Linked DNA regions of Homo sapiens. The protein of the gene in region 3 interacts with the protein of the main gene of each other region in a pairwise test. Each region holds a gene or a part of one and is shown on either strand. Other genes may lie near its edges.

Evidence for each region. Proteins that work in one complex are often made in the same cells at the same time.
Region 1: the proteins of ACBD5 (region 3) and SLC38A7 interact in binary tests that used the Homo sapiens proteins (3 or more experiments, as listed by UniProt).
Region 2: the proteins of ACBD5 (region 3) and TMEM229B interact in binary tests that used the Homo sapiens proteins (3 or more experiments, as listed by UniProt).
Region 4: the proteins of ACBD5 (region 3) and PEX19 come close enough for resonance energy transfer, tested with the Homo sapiens proteins (one large-scale study listed by BioGRID).

The regions. Positions count from the first base shown.
Region 1 is NC_000016.10:58,667,771-58,671,328, forward strand, and holds part of SLC38A7 (sodium-coupled neutral amino acid transporter 7), read right to left. Parts: intron 3,475-3,558; coding exon 3,275-3,474; exon of another isoform or gene 3,100-3,274; intron 2,398-3,099; coding exon 2,343-2,397; intron 1-2,342. UniProt on the Homo sapiens protein: Symporter that selectively cotransports sodium ions and amino acids, such as L-glutamine and L-asparagine from the lysosome into the cytoplasm and may participates in mTORC1 activation. The transport activity requires an acidic lysosomal lumen.
Region 2 is NC_000014.9:67,478,722-67,482,279, forward strand, and holds part of TMEM229B (transmembrane protein 229B), read right to left. Parts: intron 1-3,558.
Region 3 is NC_000010.11:27,220,220-27,223,881, reverse strand, and holds part of ACBD5 (acyl-CoA-binding domain-containing protein 5), read left to right. Parts: intron 1-429; coding exon 430-544; intron 545-642; coding exon of another isoform or gene 643-675; intron 676-3,662. UniProt on the Homo sapiens protein: Acyl-CoA binding protein which acts as the peroxisome receptor for pexophagy but is dispensable for aggrephagy and nonselective autophagy. Binds medium- and long-chain acyl-CoA esters.
Region 4 is NC_000001.11:160,279,221-160,282,191, forward strand, and holds part of PEX19 (peroxisomal biogenesis factor 19), read right to left. Parts: coding exon 2,819-2,971; intron 1,027-2,818; coding exon 850-1,026; intron 626-849; coding exon 581-625; intron 415-580; coding exon 331-414; 3' UTR 1-330. UniProt on the Homo sapiens protein: Necessary for early peroxisomal biogenesis. Acts both as a cytosolic chaperone and as an import receptor for peroxisomal membrane proteins (PMPs).

The sequences.
Region 1 (3,558 bases), on a different chromosome or scaffold from region 3:
CACATGGAATGTGGTCTATTTCATTAAAAAAAGGAAACAAAAAGCAGACATCTGCAAATGTATGTACCAATTAACAGCAACAGGGATAAAACGGAATTGAAATAAAGGGTGATTTCCGGCCGGGTGTGGTGGCTCACACCTGTAATCCCAGCACTTTGGGAGGCCAAGGCGGGCAACCTGAGGTCAGGAGTTCGAGACCAGCCTGGGCAAGATGGCAAAACCCCATCTCTACTAAAAACAGAAAAATTAGGCTGGGTGCAGTGGCTCATGTCTGTAATTCCAGCACTTTGGGAGGCCGAGGCAGATGGATCACCTGAGGTCAGGAGTTCAAGACCAGCCTGGGCAAGATGGCGAAACCCCATCTCTACTAAAAATAGAAAAATTAGGCTGGGTGTGGTGGCTCATGTCTATAATCCCAGCACTTTGGGAGGCCAAGGCAGGTGGATCACCTGAGGTCAGGAGTTTGAGACCAGCCTGGCCAGCGTGGTGAAACCCCGTCTCTACTAAAAAAATACAAAAAATGGCTGGGTATGGTGGCTCACGCCTGTAATCCCAGAACTTTGGGAGGCCAAGGTGGGCGGATCACCTGAGGTCAGGAGTTCGAGATCAGCCTAGCCAACATGGTGAAACCCCGTCTCTACCAAAAATACAAAAATTAGCCAGGCATGGTGCTGCGCACCTGTAATCCCAGATACCCTGGAGGTTGCAGTGAGCCGAGATCATGCCACTGCACTCCAGCCTGGGTGACAGAGCGAGATTCCATCTCAAAACAACAACAACAAACCCAAAAAATTAGCTGGGTGTGGTGGTGGGCGCCTGTAATCCAAGCTACTCAGGAGGCTGAGGCAGGAGAATCGCTTGAACCCGGGAGGTGGAGGTTGTTGTAGTGAGCAGAGATCGCGCCATTGCACTCCAGCCTGGGCAACGAGTGAAACTCCATCTCAAAAAAAAAAAAAAAAAAAAAGACAAAAAAAAAAGAAATAAAGGGTGATTTTTTTTCTTCTTCTTCTTTTTCTTTTTTTGAGACAGAGTTTTGCTATCACCCAGGCTGGAGTGCAGTGGTGCGATCTCCACTTACTGCAACCTCCGCCTCCGGGGTTCAAGCAATTCTCCTACCTCAGCCTCCCGAGCTAGGACTACAGGCATGCGCCACCACAACCAGGTAATTTTTGTATTTTTAGTAAAGACGGGGTTTTGCCATGTTGGCCAGGCTGGTCTCGAACTCCTGACCTCAGGTGATCTGCCTGTCTTGGCCTCCCAAAGTGCTGGGATTACAGGCGTGAGTCACTGTGCCTGGCCAATTTTTTTTCTTTTTTAGACATGTTTGTATGGCTTTTTTTTTTTTTTTTTTTTTTTTTTTTTGAGACAGAGTTTCCCTCTTGTTGCCCAGGCTGGAGTGTAATGGTGTGATCTCGGCTCACTGCAACCTCCGCCTCCTGGGTTCAAGCAATTCTCCTGCCTCAGTCTCCCAAGTAGCTGGGATTACAGGCAGGTGCCACCATGCCCAGCTAATTTTGTATTTTTAGTAGAGATGGGGTTTCACCATGTTGGTCAGGCTGGTCTCGAACTCCTGACCTCGGGTGATCTGCCCATGTTGGCCTCCCAAAGTGCTGGGATTACAGGCATGAGCCAATGCACCTGGCTGAAACCACTTTTCATAAAACAAAACAAGAGCCCTGCATCTATGTATACATCTCCATAGCTATGTGTACACAGACACGCACACATGTACAGAAGTGGTTGAGGACACAGACCATACTGGTAACATGGAGCTATCTCAGAAAGGATGTGGGGGCGAGTGGGTTGTGGGGGAAGAGGGACTTCCATCTTTTTGTATTAAGCCCTTTATTAATGTTTAAATTGTTAACAACTAGCACACTACCGAATTTTTAAAAGTATTAAAAAAAAAACAACAACAACCTGGCTGGGTGTGGTGGCTCACGCCTGTAATGCCAGCACTTTGGGAGGCCGAGGAAGGAGGATCACCTAAGGTCAGGAGTTCGAGACCGGCCTGGCCAACATGGTGAAACCTCGTCTCTACTAAAAATACAAAAATTAGCTGGGTGTGGTGGCAGGCATCTGTAGTCCTAGCTACTCGGGAGGCTGAGGCACGAGAATGGTGTGAACCCAGGAGGCGGAGCTTGCAGTGAGCTGAGATCGTGCCACTGCACTCCAGGCTGGGCGACACAGCGAGACTCCGGCTCAAAAAAAAAAAAACAAAACAAAAACCCATGATTTCTAAGTACACAAGCCTCTGACTCCTATCTGTTTTAAGGCCCCCACAAAGCCACATTCCAATCCAGCACCTCCCTGAGAGGATCAAGGGCTGGGTCCTGCTTTACCTGGCTGGTTTGACCTCTTCCATCTCAGAGAGTTTGGCTTGAATGAGGCACAGCCCTGAAAGAGAAGAAGTGGCCCTGAGCATTTGTGAGGGGAGAGGGCTCCCTCCCTCCTAGCCACCTCCTTTCCCAAGAAGCAGTGCTGGATGGAGAAAGGCCCATGTTTACTCTTCTAGAAATTCCATCTCTGCCCCCACACCACATCCTGCTGGGGTCATCTGGCATCTGCTCTCCCATGACAGGCTGGCATCTGACAAGACCCCTTGGGCAGCATGCTAGACTCAGCTAAAGGGACAGCACTCAATGGTGACTCAGTGGTGGCCCAACCCCAGGGGTCTTCCTAGTACACTTCCCAGCAGATCTGGCTCCCCTGCTCCAAGCAAAGCAGCTGGGGCTTTCAGGGTGGCTTCCTGGATAGAGACAAGCTGGAAAAGGGTGGAACTCATGGCTGGGCAGACAGGACAGTTCTCCAGGGATCTGGCGGTAGATCTGTGTCTGGAACCCAGGTTCCCTGATGTCTGTGTCAGGGTGCCACCCCAGACCCCACTGCCCTCTGGGCTGTAATGGGCTGAACCAGCCAGATAGATCCCTCATAGTCAAGGAGCAGCAGACACCTGAATGAATGGTTAAAAGAATAGACTCTGGACCCAGACAGCGTGGGATGGAAAAGGTTACTAGTTGAGTTTGTTAAGCTCTAGGCAAGTCTGTGACCCTTTCTGAGCCCCACGTGCCATCAGTAAACTGGAGATCACAACTATACCTTCTTTCCAGGAGATAATGCTTGGATAGGGGCTAGTACAGAGGCGAGACAGGTGATCAATTAGTGCTGGTGGTTACTCTCTCCTGCATGTTTTGAGCAAGTAGGGAGCTGAGGCTAGGCAGGCCCTGGGAGTCTGTGCTGTGGGGCTGTGAGATGGGGCGCCAGGGGTCCGCACCTGGGAAGACGAAGATGAAGCAGGCGGCCAGGCCTCCAATGACTGAGATCACCTTGCCGATGTCAGGGATGAAGAGCGCCAGCAGCAGGGTGAGCAGGAACCAGACCAGCGTCTGCAGCACTCGCCGCCGCCGCTCCCGCCCCACGTCCTCCTCCACTGGCACCCCCTGGTAGCGCAGCCACAGGCCTTCCACCACCGCCCTGCCCACATGGAGAAGGGCTTAGAGGTGCCCCTGCTGCTAGCAGCTCCCCACCTCTAGCTCACAGGAGCCAGACCCCTAACTG
Region 2 (3,558 bases), on a different chromosome or scaffold from region 3:
TGAACCCTCCTTTAAGACCCAGCTCCTCCTCTGTGAGGACTTTCCTAAGCACCCTGACTCCAGAGTTGTCTTCCCACTTCTGCACCCTCCCTTCTCTGTGGTAATAGTGAGCACTCTGCTTCACTGGATTCATCTGAACGCCAGCACCAGCAGCCTCCTGAGGAATGCTTGTTTAAGATAGTGGTAAGAGAAAAAAGCAGGATTCAAAACTGAATATTCAACCTAACTCCGATTCTGCAAAGGCATGCATATGTGCACATATACAAAAAAATTAAACAACAATCATCTCTGGATGGTGATATCATATGTGCTTTTTTTCTTTATATTTTTCTGCATACTTTTTTTTCCTAACAAGCATGTATAACTTTTATAAAACTAAAATTTCATCTTAAAAATGCTTATGGAGGCTGGACGTGGTGGCTCACCCTGTAAACCCAGCACTTTGGGAGGCTGAGGTGGGTGGATCATGAGGTCAGGAGTTCAAGACCAGCCTGGCCAACATGGTGAAACCCTGTCTCTACTAAAAGTACAAAAATTAGCTGGGCGTGGTGGCGTGTGCCTGTAATCCCAGCTACTCGGGAGGCTGAGGCAGAAGAATTGCTTGAACCGGGACCCAGGAGGTGGAGGTAGCAGTGAGCGAGATCGTACCACTGCACTCCAGCCTGGGCTACAGAGCAAGACTCTGTCTCAAAAAAAAAAAAAAATGCTTGTGGAAGCTGGGTGCAGTAGCTCATGCCTGTAATCCCAGTACTTTGGGAGGCCGAGGTGGGTAGATCACCTGAGGTCAGGAGTTCGAGACCAGCCTGGCCAACATGGTGAAACCACATCCCTACTAAAAATACAAAAATTAGCCGGGCATGGTGGCATGCACCTGTAATCCCAGCTACTCGGGAGGCTGAGGCAGGAGAATCGCTTGAACCTGGGAGGCGGAGGTTGCCGTGAGCCGAGATAGCGCCACTGCACTCTAGCCTAGGTGACAGAGTGAGACTCCGTCTCAAAAAAGGAAAAAAAAATGCTTGTGGAATGAATATGTATTCACCGTATTCATACCTCGTGTATAGAAGGTGTTCAATGAATTTGCTAAGCAAATGAACCCAAAGAAACCTGAAGTCATGTAAAATTATTGCAGGCTCTTCCCTCCTGTGTCATCCAACAACAAACCATGCCTCACAGGTCTCAATATGGCCAGCTGGTTAAGTTCAGGGACCCCAGATGATCCTAACTGCCTGGGTTGGAATCCTGGCTGATGCTTTCCACCTGTGAGACCTAATGGACGCTGCCCAACCACCCTGTGCCTCAGGGTCCTTGTAGGTAAAGTGAGGATAACGGAAGTAATGACCACAGAAGGCTGTTGTGAGGACGAATGAACTCGTACATATACACTACTTAAAATACAGCTAAGGCTCCAGAAAGGGCAGCTGTCATTTCTGGCACAGAGCCAGACCTCTGGACAGCCCCTCCTGCTTTTACACCGCCTCTTACCCGATGCAGGGTCACTGTGCCCCTGCTCTCGGCAGCCTCCAGGCAGCCCTTCCTGTCAAGCAGGTTAGGTCTTCATCACAACCCTGAGCACCAAGCTAGCGAGCCAAGAAATCGGGTGGCAATAATAACCCCACATATGGCCCTCAGGAGAACAAAACTCCCACAGACATCCCGGGAGACTGAAGGTGAGCCTCCAGCTTCCCTGTGGCTACCGAGGGATGAATGGAAGAGGAAGGGTGTCAGAGCCAGCCCGAGGGGCAGACTTGAAAAGATGGTGGAATGAAAGGGGCACAGCCTCTCACCCCCTCATTTAACCTCCTACCCCCGGGCAGGAGAGAACAGATCCAGGCTCCAGGGGAACACACTGAGGCGGTCTGAGGGCCTGAGACAGATGGCACAGCACAGGGATGTGGAGACCTCTGGACCTCCTACCCCAACTCAGGCCCCATGACCTGCACGTATCCCCCTGGCTCTTCCAACCCCCAGGGCCCGGGCTGAGGGAACAGGAACCTCACAGGGGCTCTCCTGCAGCAGCCTGACATGACTGTGTGGATCTCATTACTCAGGCCAGACCCCAGCCTTGAAGCTGACTTTAAACCCTGCTCTTCTTGCCTCTGATCTCTCTGGGATGGCCCAGACCGGTTTCCCAGCTGGTAACAGACGGGAGGGTCCAGTCTCTTCCCCAACCCCAGCAAGTAACTTGGGAGAGTCAGATCCCAAAACCCTTGGAGCAGAAGCAAGAAGAAAGGGGTAGCTGTCAAAGGGAGAGAGAAACCTAGGGTGAGAGACAGGAAGTTGCTGAACAGAAGAGAGGATGGAGTTCATGCCTGCAGTCCCAGCACTTTTGGAGGCTGAGGTGGGAGAATAGCTTGAGGCCAGGAGTTCGAGACCAGCCTGGGCAACATAGCGAGACCACCATCTCTACAAAAAGAAAAAAAAGTAGGCTGGTTTGATGTGGTGTGCCTGTAGTCCCAGACGCTAAGGCAGGAGGATCCCTTGAGTTCAAGAGTTTGAGGCTACAGTGAGCTATGATTGTGCCACTGCACTCCAGCATGGACAATGAGCAAGACCCTGTCTCTTAAAAAAGAAAGAAAGAAAGAAAAACAAAAAAGCGAGATGGGGGAGAGAGAAATATGGTGTGCCCCAAGCCCAGATTCTGTTTCTGGGCAGCAGGAAGCCATGGGTAGTAGATGGAGGGGAAGCACACCACGGCAATGTCAGACAGTGTCCGAGGGCAGAACTAGGAGAACATAGCTGGTCCATGCAAGACCAACAGGGGAAATGAAAGACCTGAGTCAGGGCAGAAGATGGGGTTGAAGAGAAAGGAATAGGAGACAGTGTCATTGGCTGAGGTGGCAGCTCCCAGTGTGGTGGGGAAGATGATAATATTAGAGGCTGGGCATTGACTTGGATGCGTTTTCAGAACCCCACTCTCCAAACCCATTTCTAATCAGCACAGGAGCTGTGCTTAACTTTGAGCTAGGACAGGCTCGCCCACCCCATACAGGGCCTGACAGGCCTCTATTCCCTGCCCCGGCCTCCACCCACCCGACTCCCTATATCCTTAGGCTCCTTCCACTAGCTCCTTGCTCAGCCCTGGGATCAGAGCCCTGGGAAAGCCTGCTGCAGGGAGAACCGGCAGCTCAGGGGACCTTGGCTTCTTTCTCCTGGTGACAAACAAAACTGTCCTGAGACCTGTGACATGAAGATAGGACAGCCCAGGAACAGAAATTCAGGGTGGATTGAAGAGGAGGAGAGTGTGAGCAAGGTTGAATGCAGGAGGACAGAGTTTGGAGAGCAAAGGATAGCTTCACAAGCAGGGTTTCATTGAACAACATTCAAATCCGAGAGTCCTCATACCTGATGAAAGGGCCTGGGCAAACAGAGTCCCATCGAAGGGCCAGGACTCAAGGTGACTTGTGAGGTCTAGGAACTACCCCTTCAAGGGAACAGGTGATGGGGAAGGGGAAGGGGATCTGGCTTTCAGAGCCCTGTTCACTAAGAGCATCTCACCGGCTGCTCTCCGAGCCTGCTGTTCCACAGGGTGGCAGGGGACATGGCCAGCAGTTGAGAGGG
Region 3 (3,662 bases):
CTGGAGTGCAGTGGTGCCATAATGGCTCACTGTAGCCTCGACCTCCCAGGCTCATGTAATCCTCCCACCTCAGCCTCTGGAGTAGCTGGGACCACAGACACACACCACCGTGCCTGGTTAATGTTTTTTAAAAAATTTTTAAGAGACAGGGTCTCACTGTGTTGCCAAGGCTGGTCTCAAACTTCTGGGCTCAAGCCATCCTCCTGCCTTGGCCTCCCAAAGTGCTGGGATTACAGGCATGAGCCACCACTTAGCCCGGCCACAGTGTGTATACATTAAGTATGTAATTAATGTAGATCCTTCAGAGAGTCTATTATGAATGTCAAATATTAAAATTATTGACAAATTGGAAATAGGAGATTATTTGATATTAGTGGAGATCAAATTAAGAGTTTGTGATTTCACAATATTTGTTTCTTTTGATTACAGATTATTGAAACTATGCCAATGACTGAGAAAGTTGAAGAATTGCTGCGTGTCATAGGTCCATTTTATGAAATTGTCGAGGACAAAAAGAGTGGCAGGAGTTCTGATATAACCTCAGGTTGGACTATTTTACCTATTTTTAAATTCATCAACTGATATATTATGCACATATTAATATTTGTATCTCTGATTTTTTTTCTTACTTTCACGCGCCAGTCCGACTGGAGAAAATCTCTAAATGTTTAGAAGGTAGGAATCATGAAATCATGTAAAAGTTTTGTTTAAAATTTACATGTCAAAAGAATTCTGCACAAACTTACAGAACTTACAATCTTGTCACCCAGGAGTTTTCATTCCAGGCAAACACATTATATGAAGTTCCAAAACATTATAAACCCTTAAAATTTTAACCCTTAAGTGGTAAGCTATTAAAATACACCAGGTAGTTTACTTAGTATATTCGAAATTATAGCAGAATTCATGGTTTTATTTTGATAGGTCATGTTTTCTATTTTGCTTTGAGAATTACGTTAATAGTACTTTGAATTCAATGATTTACTAGCTAATTTTAAAATGGATATGTTGGCCAGGTGTGGTGGCTCATGCCTGTAATCCCAGCACTTTGGGAAGCGAAAGCGGGCAGATCACCTTGAGGTCAGGAGTTCAAGACCAGACTTGCCAACTTGGTGAAACCCCGTCTCTACAAAAAACACAAAAATTAGCCAGGCATGGTGGCACACGCCTGTGATCCCAGCTACTTGGGAGGCTGAGGCACAAGAATCACTTGAACCCAGGAGGCAAAGTTTGCAGTGAGACGAGATCACTCTGCTGCACTCCGGCCTGAGCAACAGAGTGAGATGCTGTCTCAAAAAAAGAAAAAAACAAACAAAAAAAGAAATTAAAAATAGATGTGTTTAGGGTGTGGTTTAACTATAGCATATAAGCTAATGCAAGACAGTTAATTCATTTAGCTTGTTTTCTTTTTTCTTTATTTTGGTTCAAGCATCTCTGCATGGATTACAACTTCTATTTTTTTTTTTTTTTTAGAATTTTGTCTTCATGTACACAAAGGATTGAAAGGGTTGTGTTTTGCATACTTGTAGGAGTTGAATAAAATGGGAGATTTGTTGGTATTAACTAAACATTTGATCTTGAATTTTTTTTAGAAAGCAGAGTGAAATGAGACCACAAGAGTCAATTTAAGAGAAAATTATATACCCTTTAAATAAAAATCGCCTGGCATCCCCTTTTTTTCCCTTGACATCCCTATTTATAAGACATCTTTTAATAATTGACAATAATGGCAGCATTTCAGAATAGTAATCTTCCTGTGCTGAAATCGGTCCTTGTCACGGTCATAAACCACGTGCAAGTAGTACTGACTGCTTACTGGGCATAACTCTACCACATCATTCTACATCTGATTTGCTTACAGAAGTCAAATATTAACAAGTAGTCCTTCTTATAAGGCATGCTTATTCAATTCAGAGAAAAAACTAAATGTTTTCTTCTTTTCTTTTTTTTTTTTTTTTTTTTTTGAGATGGAGTCTTCCTCTGTCACACTGACTGGAGTGCAGTGGTCCCATCTTGACTCACTGCAACCTCCAACTCCTGGGTTCAAGCAATTCTCCTGACTTAGCCTCCCAGGTAGCTGGGATTACAAGTGTACACTTGTATTCTTGTATGGCTAATTTTTGTATTTTTAGTAGAGCCAGGGTTTTGCCATGTGGGCCAGGCTGATCTCGAACTCCTGACCTCAGGTAATCCTCCCAACTCAGCTTCCCAAAGCACTGGAATTAAAGGCATGAGCAATTGTACCCTGCCAGAAAAAAAAAATTAAATGTTTTATGTATGTCAGGCATGTTGGGATGCAGAGGGAAATAAATCTGGATCTGCTGCTGTGGTGTCCAGCCACTGGCCAGAGGCAGATATTTAAACAGCTAATTATAAAACAAAGAAGAGTAAATAATAGTAATAAAGGTGCAGGCTCACAGCTACCTAGCTATAACTTACAATTTTAAAAATCTTTGAAGACCAGAAGTTTTTTGGTAAACTCATTTGGCAGCAAAACCTGTCTGATATGAACTAAAAATCTGGGGAGTAAAACCTGACCTGAAGTAAAACGAGGGTATTTTGAGTCTCTTTCCTCTTTAATGTAACTATTTATATGTTTTGCTGCAAAAATCACATTCTCTTTTTAGTGAGAGCTGCCTTAGACTCTATTGGATGTGTTACATAATATACCAAATGGCATATGTACCATATAACCTTTGCAAAATTAGAAAACTTGAGATTTCAAAATGTATCTGGATCCAAGGGTTGTAAGTAAGGGATTGTGGACCTGCACCATAATTTTTTTAACCTGAGCCATTCTGGTGGACATTTAGGTTATTTACTCCTTTGATCTTCAGAAAATACTGCTGAGAATAACCACGTACATTTGTCATTTCACATATGTGAAAGCATATCTGTAAGAAATATTAGAAATGGAGTTAGAAATGTTTGATGTTTGTAATTTTGTAAGATATTACCAAATTGCAAAACAGTTTGCAGTCTTGCCTTTTTTTTTCTAAACAAAGCATTTCCTTAAAAGTAGCCATTTAGGTCCAATAGAACAGATGTATCAGTTTTACATTGCCATTTTCAGAATATACATATACAGTAAGTTTTGAAATCAGGAATGATGAGTCCTCCAATTTTGTTATTTTTCAAGATTGTTTTGGCTAATCTTGATCCCTCACATTTTCATATGAATTTTAGAATCTGCATGTCAATTTTTGCAGAAATGCCAGCTTGGATTTTGATACAGATTGCAGTGAATTTGCAGATCATTTTGGGGAGTATTGTTACCTCAAAAATATTGTCTTTCAATCCATGTTCTCAAAACAGTGTCCAGTAACCAACAGCATTGGTAACAAATGTGATCTTTATAGAAATTTGGAATCTTAGATCACCCTAGACATACTAATTCAGAATCTGCATCTTAAATAGCTCTCAGAAGATTTGTATGCACATTAAAGTTGAGAAGCTCTGATGTATTTACCCTCGGGATATAGCTTTGGCCACTTGGACAATTTGCTTTTGTAAGTGATTGATCACATTAATGGATACTTTAAGAAAAAAACTTAAATATCATAAAGACAGATAATGTGAGTTGTGCACCTGAAGTCCTAAAGGTAATACAGGAATAAAGTTTGTAAAATGGACCCCAACTGTAATATTGATGAGATTGTTGG
Region 4 (2,971 bases), on a different chromosome or scaffold from region 3:
AGTGTGGCCACATATAACATTATTTTGAGAAAGGAAAGAAAGTGCATGCCCCAAAAGGGATGCCTTCCTTCACCTTGCAGGTAGCTGGAACTTTGATAGTGGCAGAAACCACAATGGAGTAGGGTTCACAGAAATGGCCTGTGAAACAGACCCTATTCCTAGAGAGACAGAGGAAAAACCTCAGCTGGTATGGCACAATCTTGAATGGGATGACAGAGGGCAGCGGGCAGACTTCTCCCGCAGGTGACACTCCTGCCTCAGGTCCCAATGGTTCTGCTGACTCCAGATGTTCCCCATAGCTGGGACTCAGAGAGGAAAACGTGTTGTGTTTCACATGATCAGACACTGTTCACCACTGGCACCTGGTGGGCCCGAAAGATTGAGGGCATCCAGGTCAAAGTTGAGGCCAGGAGGCTGGGGAAGAGATGAAGGGACTCAGATAGTTGCTCATTTTTTAGGACAGACGTGAAGATCCATCCCCAGTAGCCACAATTTTCACCTTAGGTGGAATCCTGAGAGGTTAAAGAATTCTGGAAATTGGGGACTCAAATTAAAATCTGGAAAAATAAGACATACTCACCATCTCTCCAGCCAGCTCTTTTGGAGGATGGCCTAAATCTTGTAGCTAGAAAATAAGGAAAATGGAACATGAAATAGAGAAAAGCCCAGAAAACAACAGAGGATCCAGAAGAGGAATCTAATGAATGATCTCTCTATTTCTTCTGAGAGAGATCACAAGAGAGGATCCCTCCTCCACCTAGGTCTAGCAGTATTGCATCCTTCCCAGATACTTCCTTCACTGAACACCTAAGTGGACAGCACCAGTGGGCAGAAGGCAAGAGGCCTTACCTGCTGCATAAGATCCAGCACCATCTCAAAACGAGCCTTTTGAGTGGTTTCACTGTCTGTGGGGGTCTCTGCCTCAAACTGCTCACATATTTTGCACATGACGCTGTGCTGCTCCTGATATTTTTCAAACTGCTCTGGAGGTAGAGATTCCCGATGACTCTGCAACCATTCTGGATACTAAGAAAAGAGAGAATGGGTGGAAAAGAATTAAGTGAACAATGGATATGGATGGGTAATCAGAACAATGTGATTAAAATGTGAAAGGGAAAGGGACGTAGAAAAACGAAAAGCTAAATAAGTAAGTTCATCATGAAAAGCGGCACTGACTCCAACCAGATCACCTGGCCATGTTAGCATTTATGGTCACCAGAGATTGGTAAGCTTCTGTAAAGGGCCAGACAGTGAATATTTTAGGCTTCAAGGGCCACATATGGTCTCTATTGTGTTTTTTTTTTCTTTTTTTTCGAGACAGAGTTTTACTCTGTCACCCAGGCTGGAGTGTGATGGTGTGATCACCACTCACTGCAGCCTCGATCTCCCCAGGCTCAAGCAATCCTCCCACCTGAGCCTCCCCAAGTAGCTGGGTCTACAAGTGTGCACCACTGTGACTGGCTAATTTTTTTGTATTTTGTAGAGACAGGGTTTCATCATGTTGCTCAAGCTGGTCTTAAACTCCTGGGCTCAAGCAATCTGTCCACCGTGGCCTCCCAAAGCGCTGGGACTATAGGAGTGAGCCACTACGCTCGGCTATTGCACATTTTCTTTGTAGTTTTTTTCAAATGACCTTAAAAATGTAAAAACCATTATTTGCTAGAGAGTTGGATTTGTCCCACCCAGGTCTTGGCCTGCTGACTCGTGGTCTGTACTATTCATTACACACTTACCCACATTTCCCCATGTCACTGAAAAGCTTCTATTCCTGTATTTTATCTCTCCAGTAAAACTATACACTCTTTAGCCAGGTGTGGTGGCTCACACTTGTAATCCCAGCATTTTGGGAGGCTGAGGTGGGAGGATCACTTGAGCTCAGGAGTTTGAGACCAGCCTGAGCAATATAGTGAGAGCTCAACTCTACAAAAAATTTTGAAAACATTGGCCAAGCATGGTGGCACACACCTGTAGTCCCAGCCACTCAGGAGGCTGAGATGGGAGAAACACTTGAGCCTGGGATGGGGAGGCTGTGGTGAGCCAAGATCGTGCCACTGTGCTCCAACTGGAGCTAGACCCTGTCTCAAAACAAAATGATACAACCACACATATAAGCTCTTTTATGGCAGGGACCATCATTTAAACTACGCTTACACTGTTCACATCACAAAGCCAGTAAGTAAATCCTCAGTTAATTCTTTTTCTTTTTCAGATGGAGTCTTGCTCTGTCACCCAGGCCGGAGTACAGTGGCACAATCTCAGCTCACTGCAACCTCTGCCTCCCAGGTTCAAGTGATTCTCCTGCTGCCTCCTGAGTAGTTGCGATCACAGGCGTGAGCCACTACGCCAGGATAATTTTTGTATTTTTACTACAGACGGGGTTTCACCATGTTGGCCAGGCTGGTCTCGAACTCCTGACCTCAGGTGATCCACCCGCCTCGGCCTCCCAAGGTGCTGGGATTACAGGCATGAGCCACCATGCCCAGCCAAATTCTTGCTGGAGAAATGAAGTCAGAAATGCAAGATTGATCAGACAACAATCCCAGAGTCTTGAACCAGTTTATAGAAAACTAGAACTGAAGGATTTCCTCTTAGACCCCAAACGTTATACCTCTTATACCCCAACATACCGTGTGACAGCTTTATTCTCTCAGAGACACAACTCTCCCCAACCCCCAACTCTCCCTGCCTCAAATAAATAAAGAAGGAAAAAAAGCACACTCGAGTTACTCTTTCTGCAGGCTCTGAGTAGACAAAATAGCCCACATCAGTTGATGTGATGGAAAATGAAGAGAAAAAGCAGAAATGGAAGTTCACAAACCTTTTCTGTGATCTCCTTCAGTGATGGGTACAGCACATCCTTGGAGAGTAGGTTCTGCATAATACTCTGCATGATGGGGAGGATGTTCCCTTCCCCATCCCCTTCGTCCATGCCTAGCCCCTCCATGGCCTTGGTCAGCTCTTCTTCCGACAT